2 linked regions of the Homo sapiens genome follow. The protein of the gene in region 1 interacts with the protein of each later gene in a pairwise test. Each region holds a gene or a part of one and is shown in the gene's direction. Other genes may lie near its edges.

What was found. Proteins that work in one complex are often made in the same cells at the same time.
Region 2: the proteins of GSN (region 1) and IQUB interact in binary tests that used the Homo sapiens proteins (3 or more experiments, as listed by UniProt).

Annotation. Positions count from the first base shown.
Region 1 is NC_000009.12:121,323,662-121,327,161, forward strand, and holds part of GSN (gelsolin), read left to right. Parts: intron 1-892; coding exon 893-983; intron 984-2,850; coding exon 2,851-3,021; intron 3,022-3,500. UniProt on the Homo sapiens protein: Calcium-regulated, actin-modulating protein that binds to the plus (or barbed) ends of actin monomers or filaments, preventing monomer exchange (end-blocking or capping).
Region 2 is NC_000007.14:123,496,596-123,500,095, reverse strand, and holds part of IQUB (IQ motif and ubiquitin-like domain-containing protein), read left to right. Parts: intron 1-3,189; coding exon 3,190-3,400; intron 3,401-3,500. UniProt on the Homo sapiens protein: Adapter protein that anchors the radial spoke 1 (RS1) complex to the A microtubule of outer doublet microtubules in axonemes. The triple radial spokes (RS1, RS2 and RS3) are required to modulate beating of the sperm flagellum.

The DNA of each region.
Region 1 (3,500 bases):
GCCCGGCCCCCACTACTGTTCTTTTCCTGATCTAGGATCTAACCCAGGATCCCACATGGCATTTACTCATCATGTCTCCAAAGTCTCTGAATCTATGGCAGTTGCCCGGTCTTTCCTTTTTTTCATGCCCTTAACACTTTTAAAGGGTACTAGTCAGTTATTTTGTAGAATGTCTCTCAATTTGACAACCCCAGACATTTAAAAACAGCTTAATTTTTTTTTTGACTAGATAACACATTCACCTGGTACAAAATGTGTGAGAAGACTGTTTTAAAAATTAGCTGCATCAGCGCATTAATAGGTCAGATTTTGTTTGCTTATACGACGACATATGTTGGTTATGGAAAACTTAGACAATATGCAAAGAGGTGGGATAGAAAGGCAAAATCCCCCTAAATCTTCCCTCTAAGAGCAATCACCATGGACCTTTTTGGTGAACATCTGTGCAGACCTCTCTGCACGTGTTCATGGGAGGCTTAATCACTGACATCTTTTCCCACAAATAGGCTCTCGTAACACTTGCTATTCTGCGACCTGCTTTTCCGCCCAGAGAAATGTCCTGGCCACTTTTCTGCATCTCAGATTTGAGTCTCAGAGCATCTTCTCTGTGGCTGTTCAGCATGGGATGACCCAGCCAGTCTCCTGTGGGACACATTTAGCATAAGGAAATCCATGCGTTGCACTAAGATCTCTGTAAGCGGGCAAGATGCTAGGCTGAGAGTGGAAGTGTTGGTGTGGTTCCTGGCTCTCGTTGTTCTGAAAGAGTCCCCTTCCCTCTCTATCTGTTTCATTACTGGTAACAGGGAGATGTGTAGGTTTCTCAGACTCAGGGCAAGGGAGAGGCTCAGGGCTCTGTGTGCACCCTGATGCTGAATCTCACTTCCCCTTCCAGGCAGGGTGCCCAGTCTACCCAGGATGAGGTCGCTGCATCTGCCATCCTGACTGCTCAGCTGGATGAGGAGCTGGGAGGTACCCCTGTCCAGGTGAGCCCAGCCCACCGCCTCTCTGGGCTGCAGCCTGAGCCTTGTCCTTCTCTTCACTCATCTGTCTGACTCTCATCCATCCATTCGTTTGTCCATCTGTCTGTCTGTCCATCCATCCATCCATCCATCCATCCATCCATCCATCCATCCATGGAACAGGTATTTATTTAGGGCTTCCATGTGTTCCACACTGCATCTGTAGCCATGGACACACAGACACACTGTCCCTGCCCTAGTGGACTTTGCTGTCTTGGGTGGTAGTAGACATTCAACACACAGGCACACCAATGGCTATGACAGATGCAGTGAGTGAAATTGACAAGACCTTGGGAGAGAGACATGGGAGAGGCCATGTGGCTGAGCACGGATGTGGAACCAGCATGCTTGGGTTTGAATCCTGTCCTCACCTCTGGGCAACGTTGGGCAAGTCACTTAGCCTCTCTGTGCCTCTGTGTCCTCAAAATAGGGGTAATAACAGTACCATCCCACAAGATTGCTGTGAGGATTAAGAGTTAACATTTGTAAGCATTTAGAATCATGCCTGCCATATAAGAAGTGCCCCCTTATACATATGTGTTAAGTACAAGGAGGTAAATCCTAGGTAGGATCCTATTGGATTAGAAAAGCCCACCCCTGTCCCAGGAGGGGACTGTTCAACTGGGACCTGATGCACGTGTAGGAGTTGCCCAGGCAGAGTGAAGGAAAGCACATTGTGGGTAAAGGGTGGTACACATGCAAAGGCCCTGAGGTGGGAGGGGGCATTGGGTGTTAAAGCAAGGGGAAAATGCCATGATTTGAGGCTAGAGAGGTGCTCAGAGGGGCCAGACCACCAGAGGCCATAGTGACGATGTTGACCTTGATGCTGAGAACAACAGGAAGTTGCTGAATGATAAGTCTGAGGTGTAGGGATTTCTGGTTTAAAAAGTCACTCTGGCCAGGCGCTGGAGGGCAGCAGAGCTGGTTTGTGGAAATATAGGGGAAGCGGACAACAACTGTGCTTCCTCCGTCCTACGGTGGGAGTGGGCAGGGCTCTAGATTGGCATCGGGGGTTCGTGCCCTGACCTTTGACTATGATAGACTGGGTGCTGGGCACTAAATGAGATGATGACCATCTTAGCTCAGTGCATCCTGACAACAGCCTTGGGAGTAGCATCCTTGGCTGCATTTTTCAGAGGAGGAACTCAAGAGGTTGAGACACGTGCCCAAGTTCTCACCATCAGGGTGGAGTTGGGGTCTAAGCCCTAACTCAGCGGTGGTGGGTCGTGGTGGGAAGCGACTGCCATATGCCTGACGTACATGTGAGGTTTTCTTCTGGACATAGTTAGCCGGGGCCACGGTAAGGTGCCGCACACAGGGCAGGAGCAGATGTGAGGGTGTACATCTTCCCTGCCTCACTCCCACCACCAAGCCCCTGACTGCTGCCCGCATCTGGGGTGCACTGGCTCTGCAGGAGGGGGTTTTCTGGATCTAGAATGCTCTGTTCTTACCACTCCACCAGCAGTCATGCCCAGGCCTGACGTCAGCATTCTGGAAGAATGTCCACCAGCAATCCCTGTGCTTCTATTTAAGGGAACATTTGCAAACACAGGCTCTCCTGGTTCTTGGACCAGGCTGAGGATCAGGAAGGCATGTCGTCATGGAGATGGAGAGCAGCCCAGCAGCAGTGCCCTGGGGACCTCAGACAATAGCACTGTCTCCACCCTTCCTGGAATTCTGGTGTCCCTGCCTGTGTGTTGTCGGGTCACATTCCATGCCACACACAGACACAAGCATGATGGCTTCGTCTGGAGGGATGGGCCCAGTGCGACATAGAAGGACTGAAGCCTGCCCCCAAGGTCCCTGACTTGCTCTCCTGTCTCCCTGCCAGAGCCGTGTGGTCCAAGGCAAGGAGCCCGCCCACCTCATGAGCCTGTTTGGTGGGAAGCCCATGATCATCTACAAGGGCGGCACCTCCCGCGAGGGCGGGCAGACAGCCCCTGCCAGCACCCGCCTCTTCCAGGTCCGCGCCAACAGCGCTGGAGCCACCCGGGCTGTTGAGGTAATTTCCAGGTCCTGGAACACAGAAGGGATTGGCCTCCCTGAAACCTCCCAGCTCAATGACCAGATCTCCAGGCACAGGAACGGGGGCAGGGGATGGTGAATGACGGGGTAAGAAGCAGCTTTTTGTATTTTCCTGCCGTGGCCACAGGGTTGTCTGTCTTAGACTCCCCCCTGTTTCAAGGATACCCAGTGTCCCTTGCACACTTTGCACAGTGGACAGCTCACTACCTACCATTCTGTACAATCAGCATGCCATTCCTGATTACGTTCCAGTTGCCTACTATCCCTTTCACGGAGGAAGGCACAGATCTGGACTTGATTCCCAGGATGGTCTGAGCAGCCTAGAGGGGAATGGGACTCTCACCTCCTTTGTTCTGGGCATTCAACTTCTGTTAATGCAGCCCTGATTTTTAGAATCATGTTGGCTAGTCACAGTGCATTAGTGACTCATGGGAGTCAACCAAGGCCATCAGGGTC
Region 2 (3,500 bases), on another chromosome or scaffold:
AGGGGTGGATTATTCATGCCTCCCCTTTTTAGACCATATAGGGTAACTTCCTGATATTGCCATGGCATTTGTAAACTGTCTTGGCGCTGGTGGGAGTGTAGCAGTGAGGATGACCAGAGGTCGCTCTTGTCGCCATGTTGGTTTTGGTGGGATTTAGCTGGCTTCTTTACTGCAACCTGTTTTATTAGCAAGGTCTTTATGACTTGTATCTTGTACTGACCTCTTATCTTATCCTGTGGCTTACAATGCCTAGCTGTCTGGGAATGCAGCCCAGTAAGTTTCAGCCGCATTTCACCCAGCTCCTATTCAAGATGGAGTTGCTCTGGTTCACACGCCTCTGACAGTTACTCATACACATTTTTTAACATAACTAATTTTTTTATACCAAGTGCATATCTAATCAGCCTATATATCGTTTCCATGAATAAGTCAAGAACCTTACTAGGCTTTTCTTCATTTTCTGCCCCCTCCTTTCTTTGTTTCCTCTTTCTAGAAGCTGTCAGGATTTTCACTTTATCCTTGGTATTTGGTAATCTTATTGTAATATGCTTGAGACTTGGTGATGTACCCTTTCCGAGAGTCCATGTCTTGCTGTGGGAAATATACCTCTATTATGTTTTTATGAATTTCTGTAATCAACTTTCCTTATTTTATCTGGAACTTATCTCAGAAATATTTTGGGATGAGGCCAGATGCTGAGGCACATGCTTGTAATCCCAGTACTTTGGGAGGCTGAAGTGGGCAGATCACTCGAGGCCAGGAGTTGGAGACCAAGCTCGGCAACTTGGTGAAACCCTGTCTCTACTAAAAATACAAGAATTAGCTAGGCATAGTGGCACGTGCCTGTGGTCCCAACTGCTCAGGAGGGGAAGCATGAGAATCACTTGAACCCAGGAGGCGGAGGCTGCAGTGAGCTGAGATCACACCACTGCACTCTAGCCTGGGTGACAGTGAGACTTCGCCTAAAAAGAAAAAAAGAAAAAAAGGAAACATTTTGGAATGCTGGGATTTATCTTTTGTGTCTCTTATTTTTCATTCATTCATTTAAATTTTTATGAGCCTTTGTCCTGCATGCTAAAAGATTTTCTCACCTAATTTTCTTACCTACTTATTACTTCTTATGTTCTACACATTCTGCAGATCAGCTTACAAGAAACTACTAGTTCTCTGTCAATACCCATTTTTTCCCTTCTCCTATTGTAATAAAGCTTTATCTGAGCATGTGGCTGTTCCACTGATGACCACATTTCATCACTTCCCTTGTGTATCAGTGAGGCCATATAACTAAGATCTGGACAGCGAGATGTGAGGGACAATGTGAGCCACTTACAGTTATCATTCTTAAAATGCTCTTTGTTCCTTTTCCCTCTATTTACTGGTTGGAAGATGGTAAGTGGACCAGCCATCTGGGACATATAAGTAGGAAGCCATTTGTTAAATATGACAGAGCTTTCCTACGAGCCCTAAACTGCTTTGCTAATCCCTGGATTGTCATGTGAAAGGGAAAAAACTTCTGTGTTGTTTAAACAACTGTGTTTTGGTGTTTTAAATAAGTTGAACAAGTTTAATAGCACTCAGGCTAATCCATATTCTATTAATTTTTTAAATTTCAAAAATAAAATTTTTGCCAGTCTTTTTTCTTGGTTCATTATATTATTTTATACTGATAGCCTTTCCTTTCTCTGTGAAAATATTAACTATATCTAGTCTGCTCTTGTATTTTGTTTTGTTTTGATTTACTCTAGTAGTTCTAAAACTTTACTATAAGCATCATCTGGAGGGCTCATGAATATATAGAATGCTGTGCTTACCCAGGAGTTTCTGATCAATAGCTCTGGGGTGGGGCCTGAAAATTTGCATTGCTAATAGTTTTCTAGATGCCGCTGATGTGTTTGAGATTCTTAATGTCCAGTGTGCCAATAGCATATTGGTTCACCCAGTCTGACCCCATGATTTTAGGGGAAATGTAAAGCTTGATTATGGGAGAAACCTAGTTTTCTGGATAGGGGGCTTTTTTTTTTTCATCCTGGGTGTCACCTTCTGGGACACTCACCACTCTTGCCTAGGGACAAATATCTCTGTTGCTCCTTGCCTAATTATTTTAGAGGAACCTATCCCTTTTGCAGTTTTTAAAGTCACCTGGTTAGTGGCCACTCTGCTCAGACCATCCATCAGTTTTGGGCTTAGAGCAGTCCTAGAGCCCCTTGTTTTTTCTGACTTGCTTCTCCAGTGCATGATTAGGTTACAGACTCTTTCTTCAATTAATTCTACTGGCCTCTTTTGTTGAAGGGATTCTTCAAAGTTTCTATTCTTTTGGGGGACCCCTTCAGTTTGATCTAGTATCTTTGTCGATATCTGCTTTACATAGTTTTTCTACAATTATTAGGCATTAGGATGAGAGTAAGGGATGCATCAGCATAAGCTCTATCATCAGTCTTGATCCGGCCTCTTCACATTTTATTTTTATTTATGAGTTTAATAAATAAAATTATAAACTCTCAGAAAAAAATGATAAACTCTCTCAGCTATATCATAAACTTTTTGAGGGTTTAGTACTATGGTGTACTTTCAAACATATTCATGTTTCATACAAGTTAATAAATATTTGTTTGCTTCAGTCTCCATTTTATCTAACCTGCCTTTGGTGGTTTCCACACATACCTACCTGATGTGTATTTAGGAAAACACAGTTTTGTTATAAACATGAGCCTAAGCTAGTGGCATTTAAGATAAGATGGAGATAATTAATATGTATGACAATAATAGTATTTATTGAGGACTCATGATGTACCAGGCTTGGGTTAAGCACTTTATATGTATACTCTTATTATCACTGTTTTACACATGAGGGTACTAAAGCATAGAGATGGCAAGTAACTTATCCAATCAAACAACTAGTGAGTAGCAGAAGGAAGATTCAAACTAAGTTTTACTCCAGAGTCTATTCTGTTAAGGATCGTACAAACATCCTTCTGGGAAGGTATATTTGCGAGATGTCAAAGTCAAATAGCAGTCACATGCATTATACATGTTTTTTATGTTAGTGTTTGTGAAAATATGTATTTGGAGCTAAAACTAGACTCAGTTATTTTGTTGTGGAATTGGAATTGAAATAATCATCATTGCCTTTATTGTCTGATCAAAAAGTTGATGATAGGCACTTTCTATTTCCTTTTAATTTAACTATAGGTGATAGTGATACAGACTTACTACAGGCAATGGCATGCTAAAATCTTCGTAGAGAATTTAAGAAGACAGAAAAGCTTAAGACTGGAATGGGAAACACAGCAAGAACTAAGGAAGATAAGAGAAAAAGAAGAATGGATAAAATTGGACTATCACCGGAGGCATAATCCTAAAACAAATGAAGATTTTGAATTTCTTTATAATGCATTAGAATGTAAGTTGGACACAGGCTTTGCAAAAAATATTTTTAAATTCTTCATTAATAGGAAAAACAGATTTACTGCAGACAAAAGGAAGGTGTTATTATTTTAGGG